Regions from separate parts of the Homo sapiens genome. Here regions 1 and 2 are each linked to region 3. Evidence: fine-mapped expression QTL. A gene starts in region 3. Each other region holds a variant in brackets. All regions are shown on one strand. Distances are between the middles of the regions.

The links. PIP is the estimated chance that this variant, and not a neighbour inherited with it, causes the effect. A credible set is the group of variants that fine-mapping cannot tell apart.
Region 1: its variant is the best candidate, but not a certain one, in a credible set for the expression of RSRC1 in whole blood (INTERVAL, PIP 0.58).
Region 2: its variant is the best candidate, but not a certain one, in a credible set for the expression of RSRC1 in whole blood (INTERVAL, PIP 0.60).

Annotation. Positions count from the first base shown.
Region 1 is chr3:158,691,674-158,695,920 of GRCh38, forward strand. It overlaps GFM1 (G elongation factor mitochondrial 1), which reads left to right. Exons shown (of 18, transcript NM_024996.7): 18 at 1-3,908. Among named protein-coding and RNA genes, the nearest start is that of LXN, 21 kb to the left of the region's middle. The variant G/A (reference allele first, on the strand shown) is at 2,284.
Region 2 is chr3:158,132,826-158,137,072 of GRCh38, forward strand. The region is part of intron 3 of RSRC1 (arginine and serine rich coiled-coil 1); the gene reads left to right. Among named protein-coding and RNA genes, the nearest start is that of RSRC1, 25 kb to the left of the region's middle. The variant G/A (reference allele first, on the strand shown) is at 2,308.
Region 3 is chr3:158,108,138-158,112,384 of GRCh38, forward strand. It overlaps RSRC1 (arginine and serine rich coiled-coil 1), which reads left to right and starts at 1,952. Exons shown (of 10, transcript NM_001271838.2): 1 at 1,952-2,086. RefSeq lists enhancers at 1,613-2,114, 1,916-2,265, 2,115-2,614, 2,476-2,525.

The sequences.
Region 1 (4,247 bases), 580 kb after region 3:
ATTGATTGGTTTTATAGTTCATTGAAAATCCTCAAATAAAATATAATTATTACTGAAATATGTTTAATATTTAAGGGGAAAAGAGACTAATTTCAGTTATACTTTTAAGCTTAGAATGTATGTTCATTTCCAAATTTTGTATCATAAGAGTTTTCAACATAGAGAAAAGCTGAAAAAATGCAAAGAATAACCACATACTTTCCATCTACCTTCCTTTGTTAACGGGTTGTTTATCATATAATAATTTGTTTTGTCATATTTGCTTTCACTGTCTATTATCTGTTTAAGTCTCATAACTCTATTTTTAGTTTGCTGAAGACTTGAAAGTGAATCGCATATATCATGACACTTCTTGGAGTGTCATTAATGGGCAGGCTTTTCTGTTGAAGAGTGGATTCCGTATGTTCTTCATAGAGAGTGTTTTTCAGATTCTTCATTGGGATATTAAAATATTAGCCAAATTTCTCTCTGTTTTATATATGTCTGTTTATTTCAGTTTGTGGTTTCTGCAAATTTGTAACTGCCTCTGTTTTAGGAGTATAAGTATTACTTCCTTGTGGTCTATTGTGAAGTAAAAAGTAGACCCTTGCATATACTATTCTTGTTTGTGTTCATCTTAATGTTTTTGTACAGCTAAATCAAATGTAATTTATAGAGTTAGTTTCATCAACCTAATGAATGCTAGTTAAATTTGAATTCCTTGGAATTTATCGTATATTGTATTCACTGAGATTATGAAGGGACAAATGTTAATCTTTTGTTTCCAGAAAAAGTTGGGCTTTCCCAAGCAGTTCTATTACCCGGTTCAGAATTGCTTCATCCAAAAATCATCTGATGGTATAGATGGATCCTAGTCCTTTTCATTACCTGATGGTAGAAATAAAATAATTGATTTTAAATTCCTTTGCTTTTCTTGACTTATAGACGTGGCTTTATACTTTAAGGTTTCTAGGGGAAAAAGATCTTTAAAAAGTATTGAGCACATGTTTTCAAGGCATTTGCTAAATACTTTTTTTTTTTTAATTTTTATTTTTTTGTGGTAGGGTCTCACTCTATCCCCCAGGCTGGAATGCAGAGGGACTATCTCTGCTCACTACAACCTCTGCTTCCTGGGTTCAAGCAATTATCCCATCTCAGCTGCCTAAGTAGGTGGGACTACAGGTGTGCGCCACCACTCCCTGCTAATTTTTTGCATTTTTTGAAGAGATAGGGTTTTGCCATATTGCCCAGGCTGGTCTCAAACTCCTGGGCTCAAGCTCTCTGCCTGCCCCAGCCTCCCAAAGTGCTGGGATTATGGGCATGAACCACCATGCCTGGCTGCTAAATACTTTAAATGCATTGTATAATTTCATTCTCACAACCCCGAGAGTAAGTACTATTATTATGTCCATTTTGTAATAGAAGAAGCACAGATAAGGTAAATAACTTTAATGAGACCACAAAACCTAAGTTTTTTAATTGATACTTTAATTACAATTATTCACCAAGTGCATTTCCCCCATGAATGTCTGTTGCTACAGTAGCATCAGGTCTGAAAAAATGTGGTTGCTTTGGCATTTCCTCAGCATCTTGTGACATTCACAATAACTTTGAATATTGTTCCTAATGAGGAAATACATTCTGTGTACCTTCATGGAATTTAGCATGATTCCTATGGCTATTGAGAATAGTCACAACTACTGGAACTAAACTGGATAAATAAGTAAAAAACTTACTTATTTTTAATTTGTAAAACATCCTGGTTATAATGTTACAGTGTTAGAAAAGGTCCTAGATATTTAATCCAACACCAGCATTTCATAGGTAATGATTCAGGCCTAGCTGGTGGGAGTAATTAGAATAGGTTCACAAATGGACAGATCAGGACTAGAACCCACATCTCTTTCTAAGTCATTAGTTATAGTTGGCAAAGATCACATACCAACCAAAGTCTGTAGCATGGAAAAAAATTAATGAGAATATTCATAGGTGAGGGTTGTTTATACTACTATCAAGAAGGATAATTGTTGGCTAATTCAAATATTACATCCTTGTATTGGACAACAGTAGCAGCACTAGGTAGTATTGTACTGATTCCCAACCCTCACTGTACTTTAAAAATCACTGGGGGAGCCTTAAAAAGAAATACCTAGGCCTACACCCAGATATTTAGATTATTTGGCTGGATCAAGATAAAAACTTTTTTGGGTGATTCTAATATGCAGACAAAGTTAAAGACCGCTGAAATATTGCCTGCACTGCGCTTAAGCCCAAGACATGAAATGAAAAATCTGTGAAATTCAG[G/A]AGTGTCATATTGTATTCTTTTGTGTGATATTAGAGTTTGGTTTTTTTGTTTAACAACTGTTTTTTTTTTTAAGAGATGGGGTCTTCTAAGACAAAAACCATCTGACTCAGCAATACCATTACTATATACCCAAAGGAACGTAAATCATTCTATTATAAAGACACATGCATGCACACATTCATTGCAGAACTGTTCATAATGGCAAAGATATGGAATCAACCTAAATGCCTATCACTGATAGACTGGATAAAGAAAATGTGGTACATACACATTGTGGAATACTATGCAGCCATAAAAAAAGAATGAGATCAAGTCCTTTGCAGGGACATAGATGGAGCTGGAAGCCATTATCCTCATCAAACTAACATAGGAAAAGAAAACCAAATACTGCATGTTCTCACTTATAAGTGGGAGCTAAATAATGAGAACACATGGACACACAGAGGGGAACAACACACACTGGGGCCTATTGGAGGATGGAGGGTGGGTGGAGGGAGAGGATCAGGAAAAATAACTAATGGGTACTAGGCTTAATACCTTGATGATGAAATAATCTGTACAACAAACCCCCAGGACACAAGTTTAGCTATGTAACAAGCCTGCACATCAACCCCTGAACTTAAAGAGATGGGGTCTCGCTGTGTTTCCCAGGCTGCTCACAAATTCATGAGCTCAAGCAGTCCTCTGGCCTCAGCCTCTGGAGTAGCTGGGACAAGAGGCACACACCACCATGCCTGGCTTGATAACTTTACCTTAAAAAAAAAAGTGTTCCTATTTATATAAGCTTCCAACTGACTTTCAAAAGAACTTGTTCAACTTCTAAAAATTCGTAATTCAGGTAGGAAGAAAATGAAAGTATGAATAAAATAAAATGGAATGTAGACAAAATCCCTGGTATTATTTTATATGTCTTAAGAAAGTTCTAAAGGTATTAGGAAAATGAATGTCAAGCTGTATGTAATTGTAATTAGCTAAGAGTGATTCAGAATAATTTAGACTGTTAATGAAAAGAGGACATAGGGAATAGTTTTTCATTTTATGCCAAGTGATTTTTCTGTTTTATTAGCTAGTGAAACCAATGTTGGTAAAATTAAGTTAACAATTTTAGAGTTTGTGCTAGAAAAGATATTCTGAGGCCGGATGTGGTGGCTCACGCCTGTAATTCCAGCACTTTGGGAGGCCAAGGTGGGTGGATAACCTGAGGTCAGGAGTTCGAGACCACCCTGGCCAACACGGTGAAACCCCGTCTCTACTATAAATACAAAAATCGTCCGGGCGGGGTGGCTCACGCCTGTAGCCCCAGCTGCTCAGGAGGCTGAGGCAGGAGGGTCGCTTGAACCCGGAAGGCGGAGGCTATAGTGAGCTGAGATGGCACCACTGCACTCCAGCACTCCAGCACTCCAGCCTAGGCAACAGAGTGAGACTCTGTCTCAAAAAAAAAAGAAAAAAAAGAAAAGATGTTCTGATGGTGATACTGATAAATTTTTAGTTGGTTTAACTTTTTGGGTTTTGTAAATTAATAAATTAGGTAATTGTGTTTGTATATTATTTGTATGTATAGAATTCCCCCTCATAATCTATTGTACTGTAATAAATCTGCTAAAAGGTTACCTTAGAAACATTACCTGGTTGGATTATGGATGTGTTTGTGAGCCTAATCTCAGTAATGAAAAATGCCTTTAGTGGCTCATGCCTGTAATTCCAACACTTTGGGAGGCCGAGGTGGGAGGATCCCTTTAGCCTAGGAGTTTGAGACCAGCCTGGGCAACATAATCAGCTGGTGTGGGACATCCTGGGATAGATAACCATTTCCTTCCAAAGTCAAGATAGCTGCCCAGTGAAGATCAAACAAACAAACAAAAAAAGGAAAAAAGAAAAATGCATTTATGGGGATGAGGACTTTGAGAAAGCTCCGACTCTAGAAAGCTGAAACACCAAGTAAATGCCCTTTTCTAGTCCTTAA
Region 2 (4,247 bases), 25 kb after region 3:
TCCTTCAATTTGTCCATGAACAGGAATAAATCTTTGGCAACTCTATTAGAAAATGATTAAGTATGCCCAGTACGTTGGGATCAGCCTAGAAATAGACTTAAATGTAGTTTTGTTCTTGGAAATCCTCTAGTTTTGAGATGAGTGTAGAGTTCGACTTCTGGAATAAACGGATATCTGGAAACTAGAAGATGAAGTAAGAAGAGAATTTCTTTAAGGAAAATATGAATGTTACATTTATTCTAACTCATTTTATTTTTATTGTGAATGTATTGAATGTCCCTTTCATATCCAAATGTAATATGAAAAACTAATTTATTGTTTAAAGTTTAAACTATGCATGAAACAGTTATTGAATTTTAAATTGGGGATCACTTTAATGAAAACATTTTAATATCTAATTATGAAAATTATAGAAATGATCCAGTTGATTTTCTATTTTTATTTTATTCTTTTATTAACCTATTGATCTTTATTTTGTCTTGTATCTGAAAATGAGAACAAAATATGTGCTTAGAGAGCAATTATTTATTTTATTGAGGACATATCTTAAAAGTCAAGAAGTGAAGCTGCTTGGTAATGCTATAAATTTAAAACTGTCCTACAGCAAGACAGTACGATGCAAATATGACTAAATAAGATCACAAACTGAATTTCAGTGAAACAACCAAGATTTACATTAAATTAGGAATTTTAAAACCAATTTAGTTTGTTTTACTGAGCATTTGCTTAATAACATTTTGCCTTCTTGCAATCTTTTTAAAGACAATAATTCGTCTGTGAAATGCAGGCATATCTTCAGTAGAAAAATTGAAAGCAACAGCTCACTTTCTGAAACCACACATATGGCGATATAAAGAAATATTTCAGCTCTACAAAATTTAATAAATCATCCCATTTCCTAATTTGATCATATTAGATGCTGATGTGGAAGAAGCATTTCAAATACCATCTTCTCATTAATATACATCAGTCTGGGGAATAGAATGGAATACTTATGCAGAGATGTCACAGTTACTGTTTCTTAGTTTACTAAGTGGAACAGGTTGAAGTGATTCTGGGTGCTATTTGTCAATGTCTTGTTAAAATGGTTTGGGTCGAGTTATGGAGTCCAGAAAGACGGCGGCTGATAAATCAAAAGTGGATTGAGTGGACAGGAGGCAGTGATTGATACTGTGACAGGATATGAAGAAAGGAACCTTGATACAAGCATGCATGATATTGAATATGAGAAAGAAAATGGCCCTGGAGTATGGATATTATTCAAGGAAATGAGAATAATAATATCAGCCTGAAAATATTGCTGAGTGAAGATTAGGATAGTTCTTATTAGAGCATAATACTTTACTAGGATGGTAGGGATGAAATTATGTAAATATTTGTGTGAGAAGAATATTTTAACCTATGACTGAAGACTCTTTAATGATTATTTATTCTTTACAGTAGTTTTAGCTTCATTTTTTCCTAGCTAATTATTATACCGTGTATTTATAAGCATCCTAACTAGTAAATTAAAAATTTTTTTCTTTTAGATTATTTCAAAGATCATCTACCTTTACAACATGCTTTTATAGAATAATAGTATTCAGAGATTAAACTTGTTGTGTAAATAGTATTTTACTATCAGTTGGTTTTGACTTAGAAAATTGCATTGTTAACTTGAAGTGAAAATCTGCATTGCATAGTTTGCAGCATCCTTTAGATTAGTCATTTTGAATAGCAAATGAAAGATGCCTGACAGATGAGCCATTTCACAAAGATCAAGGCTGTTATATACTGAATATTCTTTTGCGGAATTATCAGTGAAATGTTAGTTGATGTCACGGAGTTCTTGGTGGGAATCTTTTGATTAGTCTGACTTTTGTCCTTGGCAATGTGTAACTAGGAAGAACTTTCTTTTGCTTTCACTCTAAGAGTTCTATATCTAACACTGGCAGAAAAAGAGGTTCTTTGGAAAGGTATTCAATTAACTTTTAATTATATAGTCTATGAGAGACAAAGAGATGTGGAGTTGTCACGTTAATTGTAACCATAATATTTGATTTTTATGTACTGTCTTGTCATCTTAAGTACTTAACACTATAGCACAATTTTTGTTAAGTGTGTAAAACATTTGAAATGAGGCACTGTGAAATATTTACCCAGGTGACTTACATCAGTGGTGATTAATTTATTGATAATTTTTTTCTAGCTTTTTATAAAGATTCTGGTAAATGTGCATAATACCCCTAAATTCCTTAAAACTAATTTAATTACATAAAAGTTGTTATTTTTGGCTTATCATCTCAATATTTGATGAACCAAAATACC[G/A]TACCAGCTAATAACATAATATTTGAACTTAGTGTAAGTTCTTAACTGTGCTGTTTACTGCCACATGTTGTTTTGTGAGGCTCAGAATGTGTTTTGGATATTAGCAGAAGAGAAGTAGTCATTTCCAAATTATAGTGTAATTTTTTTTTTTTTTTGAGACAGAATCTCGCTCTGTCACCTAGGCTAGAGTGCAGTGGCGCAACCTCGGCTCACTACAACCTTCATCTCCTGGGTTCAAGTGATTCTCCTGCCTCAGCCTCCCGAGTAGCTGGGATTACAGGCATGCACCACCACACCCAGCTATTTTTTTTTTTTTTTTGAATTTTTAGTAGAGACAGGGTTTTACCATGTTGGCCAGGCTGGTCTCAAACTCCTGACCTCAAGTGATCTACACGCCTAGGCCTCCCAAAGTGCTGGGATTATAGGCATGAGCCACTGCGCCCGGCCTATAGTGTAAATTTTTAATGTTTTTTTTTTCTGGAGTTTTCCCTCCAATTTTTTTCTTCACATGGTAGCCAAAATGCAATGCAAAATGCAAATCTGATAGGACCTCCTTTATTTCAGTGGTTTAGAATAAAACCCAAAATGTTGACAAGGCTTTAAGTCCCTTTGTGATCTGACTCCTTCCTGCCTTTTCAATCACATCTTTCCAATGCTAGTCATACTTGTAGTGTTTAAACAGTTTTCTTTTCCTGTCTAAGGACCCTTGAACATGTGGTGGTTGCCTCTGCTCAAAATGTACTTTTCTCCCACCCATGATCTGTAATTAATCTTTTAGGTCTTTACTTAAAGACATTTCCTTAGGCTGGGATTTCCTTAGGCAGAATTTTAGCAAGCATGGTAAAGCAGAGCCCACTTTGTCAAGGAAACATGGATATGCATGCAGTCTTACTCATTTTCAACGTATAGATTGAGCTGTAAGCTTGATCATAATCACTCCTTACTTAATTTGCATTTCTACCATGTAGAAACTAATTTGAAATTATAGAAGGTGGCATTACAGACAAGAGATAGCATGGAAAGAGCTCTGAATCAGCCTGAGTCTCAGTATCTTCATGTATAAAGTATTATGCTCATTCTAGTTCTAATTTGATTCGAAATTACATGAAAATAAGTTTCATAATGTATATTATTTAAATTATTTTAAAATATCATTTTTAAGTTTTTTAAAAAACTAATTAGATGTACCTATTATTTTGCCATGTTACCATGCTCTAAAATAGTTATAATTAAATCCGCTAAAAGGAACTGAACAATTACATTGATGCTATTGCTTGCTTGGTAAACTTCTACTTGCTCCCCTACAGAGCTCTAGTTTGCACTGAGCTAAATTCTTATTCTGTTGTATATTTGTAATGAAAATGCTTTTTGTATGTGAGTTTTTGTTTATCTGATTAATAGCTTTCAGAGGTGGCTGTGAGGTCTTATAGAGGTACAGAATTTTTAGGGCTAAAAGGTTATTTTATACTATTTCTTTTAGGTGAGGGAGCTAAGACTAGGGAAGATAAGGTAAGCAAGTAATGGTGGCAGAAATGGTTCTGTTCAGTGTGTGGTGACTTTATGGTTTTCTTTTTGCAGAGTGTTTTTTCTTTTTTTTCCTTTCCCCCTCCAGTTTTTCAATGGGTGTGGAGATCATGCAGGAGCAATAGAGAAAACGAGAAAATTGTGGACGAGCAAAACTGGGCAACATTGTTCTTGGACAGATAGTCTGAAAGTGAGCCGTTTGCTTGAGGATAATAAGTTGAGTGTAAGATGGGTCACACATATAAGTACAAGAGGTTATCAATTCAAGTTCTAAAAATCTGCTCTGTTCTTGTAAGGACACTGTTAAATAAATGTGTGTTTCTATCGTTCTTTCATTTACCTGAGGTAGTCCATTTTAATAAAATTTATCCAAAATAAAGAAGCCCAGACCATGAGTCTAACCATGTATGCAGTTA
Region 3 (4,247 bases):
CAATTATAACTTAATATATTAGTGTTTCTCAAATAGATGTAGATAGAAGCTGGATATAACCTTATGTTATACTACAATACTCACATTAAAATGTTCATGTTTGGTGAGTTTAAGGATTATGTATATCATGCTTTTTAGAAACGTTGTTTTCCCTTTTTAAAACATTTCATTTTTTGCCACTTTTAGGAGAGCTAATGTCTATAATTTTTCCGCAGCTATAGCTTTTAGGTATGAATACATTGTTATCAGTACTTGCTTTTGTTTTGTTACACCACAAAAGGGACAAAGTTTCAAAGTTATACGAATTTAGAAACAATTTCACATTGAGTCTTGGGTTACTCTTTGTAACTACTTTCTGATATTATCAGAGGAAAATAATCATACAACTTTAGTCCTTTATGAAAATCTGTTTTTAAGATTATTTAGCAGAAGGGCCAGTAATAGGGAGAGCTAAGAGGATACGGTGCTCAAGGTGCTCTCAAACTGAGGTGTTAAATACATATTCACAAATAACTCAAAAATAACCACTGTTAGAAGTCGGTTAAGGAATCAGGAGACCCACCAGCTACTTGTTTGCCTTTTTAAGTACATGACTTTTAGGTTTGAAGTCATATTTCATCTACTGAGCTTGAGGGAAAGATGACCACTTTGAAGGTAATCAGGGAAGTCACAGACACAACTATTGTGTAATTCAAACCAATAAATTTTCCCATGATCTCAGCTTTTTGGCTCATTGCATATTTAGGAATAGTAGTGTTGATAACAGATGGAGCCATGAGAAATCTTTAGTGTCTGACCACAGATTTCCACTGGCCTAAGGGAAGTTACTTTAAAAAATATTTCAAGGTTTTAAATTCATACATTAATAAATGCTCACAAAGTTCCAATGATGTTGTTTCATTAAACAGCAAATATCTTCCAGAAACAGGGCATTTCAAAATACAGTTTTTGTTTAAAAAAAAAAAAAAGCATTTATGGTAAAGCTCAGCTGACAGTCTGTGGACAGATGCACAGGTTCCAATAAAATTCAGGACCCCAAGGGTTTCCCCAGCTCTTGAATTATTTAAAATATACACGTAGTGTTGTAGTAGTTAAGTTTTAAAACGGTGCCTCAAAACTGGCTAGTTAAGGTACATTATTTACGAAAAATATATTGTGGAGGTGATTTTTCACCATCTCAAATGTCTGCGGAAAACTGTAGCTTGGTTATCTAGCAGTGGTGAATGAGTTGATTCTCATAGTCGACCAAAACCCAGGCCAACAATTTATTTATCTTTTTAGCTTTGCTTAAGAGTAAATGAGGAAAAAATTTCCATGTAAGGAAAAATAAGTAATGTAGTATGAATTACAGAAAATGCTGAGTCTCTTTAATTTCTATTGGTTTAAATAAAAAAACTCCACACACCTATAAATTTGAGTTCTCTTTCAGAAGAAACCGCTCCCCGCCTCGCCTCAGGCAGCTCTCTCCTATTCCTCTACTAACCAGTTACTTTAATCTGAGAAACTAATTTGCACTCAACTTGTGAGTGCCTTCACCTTCAGGGCAGAAGAAACACCGACTTTTAATGCATTTTTGCAAATAAATCATTACAATTTAATCACACACGACTCTATACAGACACACTCCCATGATTTATTATCGTTGGGCGAGTTTCCCCCTCCCCCAGCGTGAGATAACCAATTTTGTTTCGGGTAGGTGTCATAAACAAAACTTCCTACGATGCAGATTTGTTTACTGATTACCCATGACGATAACGACGACTACTAAGACAATAACACTCTCCAGTCCCACCTTTATTGCTTTTGGTAACAATAAAATCAAAATAAACAGGCACGCAAAACAAACGCCAAACAAAAAATCGGCCGCGTTACAATCTACTCCCTCGGCATTCCCAGCGCCTGGCAGCGTCCATCGATGCACTCGATATCTCGGCTGAAGCTGCCTGGCGCTAGAACCAGGAAGGCGCTGAGCTTAAACTGAAGCAAGTTCGGTGGACGCCGGCGGCGCCCTGATCTAAAGAAACGACTCAGGGACTGCGGCGCTTGCACGTCAACGGGAGGTGTGAGCCCAAAGGTCTGGACCCAGGTGATGCCCACGACCAGGGCCTGGGGAGCGGCAGCCGTGGCTGCGGAGCTCCGAGGCCCTGATCCGGCGAGAGGCGACGCGGGGCCTGGCGCAGTTTGCGGCTCAGTGTCTGTGGAGGGTGGGCTGCGGCCTCGGGGCGTGCGCAGTGTCACCGTGCGCATGCGTCCCGCACCTGGGAGGCTCCGGACTCCTTGGGTCAAGGCTGGTGGCTGTAGGGTGGGTGGGTGGCCGCAGGCCTCAAGCTTGGCCTTCTGTCTTGAGGACATGTCGGAGAGTTCGCCGACTCCTCCCCTCGCCCCACGTTCCTGGTTCTTCATAGCTGCTTTTGGGTTTCCTGGCTCATCTTGCAATATAAGCCTGGCGCTTCCTCACTAGCTCTAGGTAGGGTGGAGCAAGAGGGAGGCTGGATTCTGGTGCCCTCTATCCCATCCACTCCACTGTCCCTGCCTTAGATCCAGCTCTCTTTCTGATTCCGCCCTACCCTTTCTGGCTCACACTGGCTTGCTGAGAGAAGTGGTGCAGGGTGAAATAGATGTTCCTCTCTTGAAATATAAATATGCTCGCCTTAAACACACTATATATTCCTTTGACTTCTGTACTGGTGGCATGTGACCAAGAGCATATGGCTCTGTTTACTTTTGCAAGATGTTACAATGCACCGTAAGGCATGTTGCCTGCTCTTGATTTTAGGTTAACCTTGACGTAATTTCTCTCTCAGAGGTTGTGTATCTTTAAATGCACACTGGAAACCTAAACAAAAAAATATTTTTTTACACTTTCAGAATTAGCAGTAACCCAATTGTGTTCCAGCTAACTAGGTAGTAGATAAATAAATTCAAATGTCTTATGTTGTCACAAGAAAGCATTCGAGTTGTCATCTTTGAACTTAGATGTATTATAAAAGTTCTAAGTGAAGGAGGTAAGCAGAGTTCCCAGGTTTAAGATTTGGAGCAGGTGTGACAGTTGCAACCTTGGGGGAAACTAGGTATCCTTTAAGAGCCTCTCTAGTCTTAGAGTTTATAAATATTCACTTTCTTTGCAGGCAAAGATTTCATGCTAAGTGATATAACACTTTATGTTTTTCAATAAGAGGGCTAAAAATGTCAGAATCTGAAACGACAAAAACAGCTGGCACCTTCTGTTAATTGGCCTTGCCAACTCAACCAGTCTCACAAAGAGGGGTGTTATGAATTGGAAAAGTTCTGAAAGCGGGTTGTTTATAGTAGATCTATAGTTGTATTTCCTGCTTTCATGTTCAAACCATTGGGGATAAATTCCTATGATTGATCATGCTTTTTTAAAAAGAGAGATGCTTGCAAGTTTTTAATTGTGATGGGAGAAGTGTTTTGACAGAATTCTTTATCTCTTTTGAGATAAAGAGTTGTGTACTTGTTTATGGATTTCTTAATATGTTAGTTTTCACCCCAGTTTTACTTTTCTTCTTTGAGGTGGATTTCCCATTGAAATAACCATTGTTTTCACTTTTTCTGGCCATGTGTCCAGAATCAAGAAAATTATAGTTTGATATACTGAGTGAGTAGTGGAGAAGTAATTATAAGCTATCATGTCCTTTGGAAATCTTTGTTCTTCAAACTGATTGCCTGTTTTCTGAAAGAGATAACTGCTTCTTGTACCCTTATCAATAACTGGACAAAGGAACTACTTGTGTAGTCCTTTGAGTTCTCTTTTCTTGAATGACCACATGTTGGCTTTACCTCTTCAATCAGGCACGTGAACTTTACATTAAGATATTTCTGTAAATTGATCTCCTCCTGTAGTCATTACATGCCATGGCTTCAGTTCTGTAGTGGGAGTTGTTGGGTGAGTTTTGCAACCACGAGGCTACAACCAGGAAGAACTAGAGTGAGAACAGGAAACCAAGAGCTATAGGAGCTCTGTCCCATGTTGTCTCTTTCACCTACAGATAGATTGAAAATTGTCAGCTTGTAGGACTCTAAAAGCCTGTGCTCCATTCATCATTCATTGCCCTTATCAGAAAGAACTATCAATGTGTCTTTCCATTCATTGCACCTTACTGGTGGAGTTAAGTATAAAGAATTCTTCCTTACTAGGACTATGTAATATAAATTGATTACCATGTCTTGAATTGGCAAGTATATTTAATTACATGCTGATGATATTATGGAAATCCAGGGGTAAG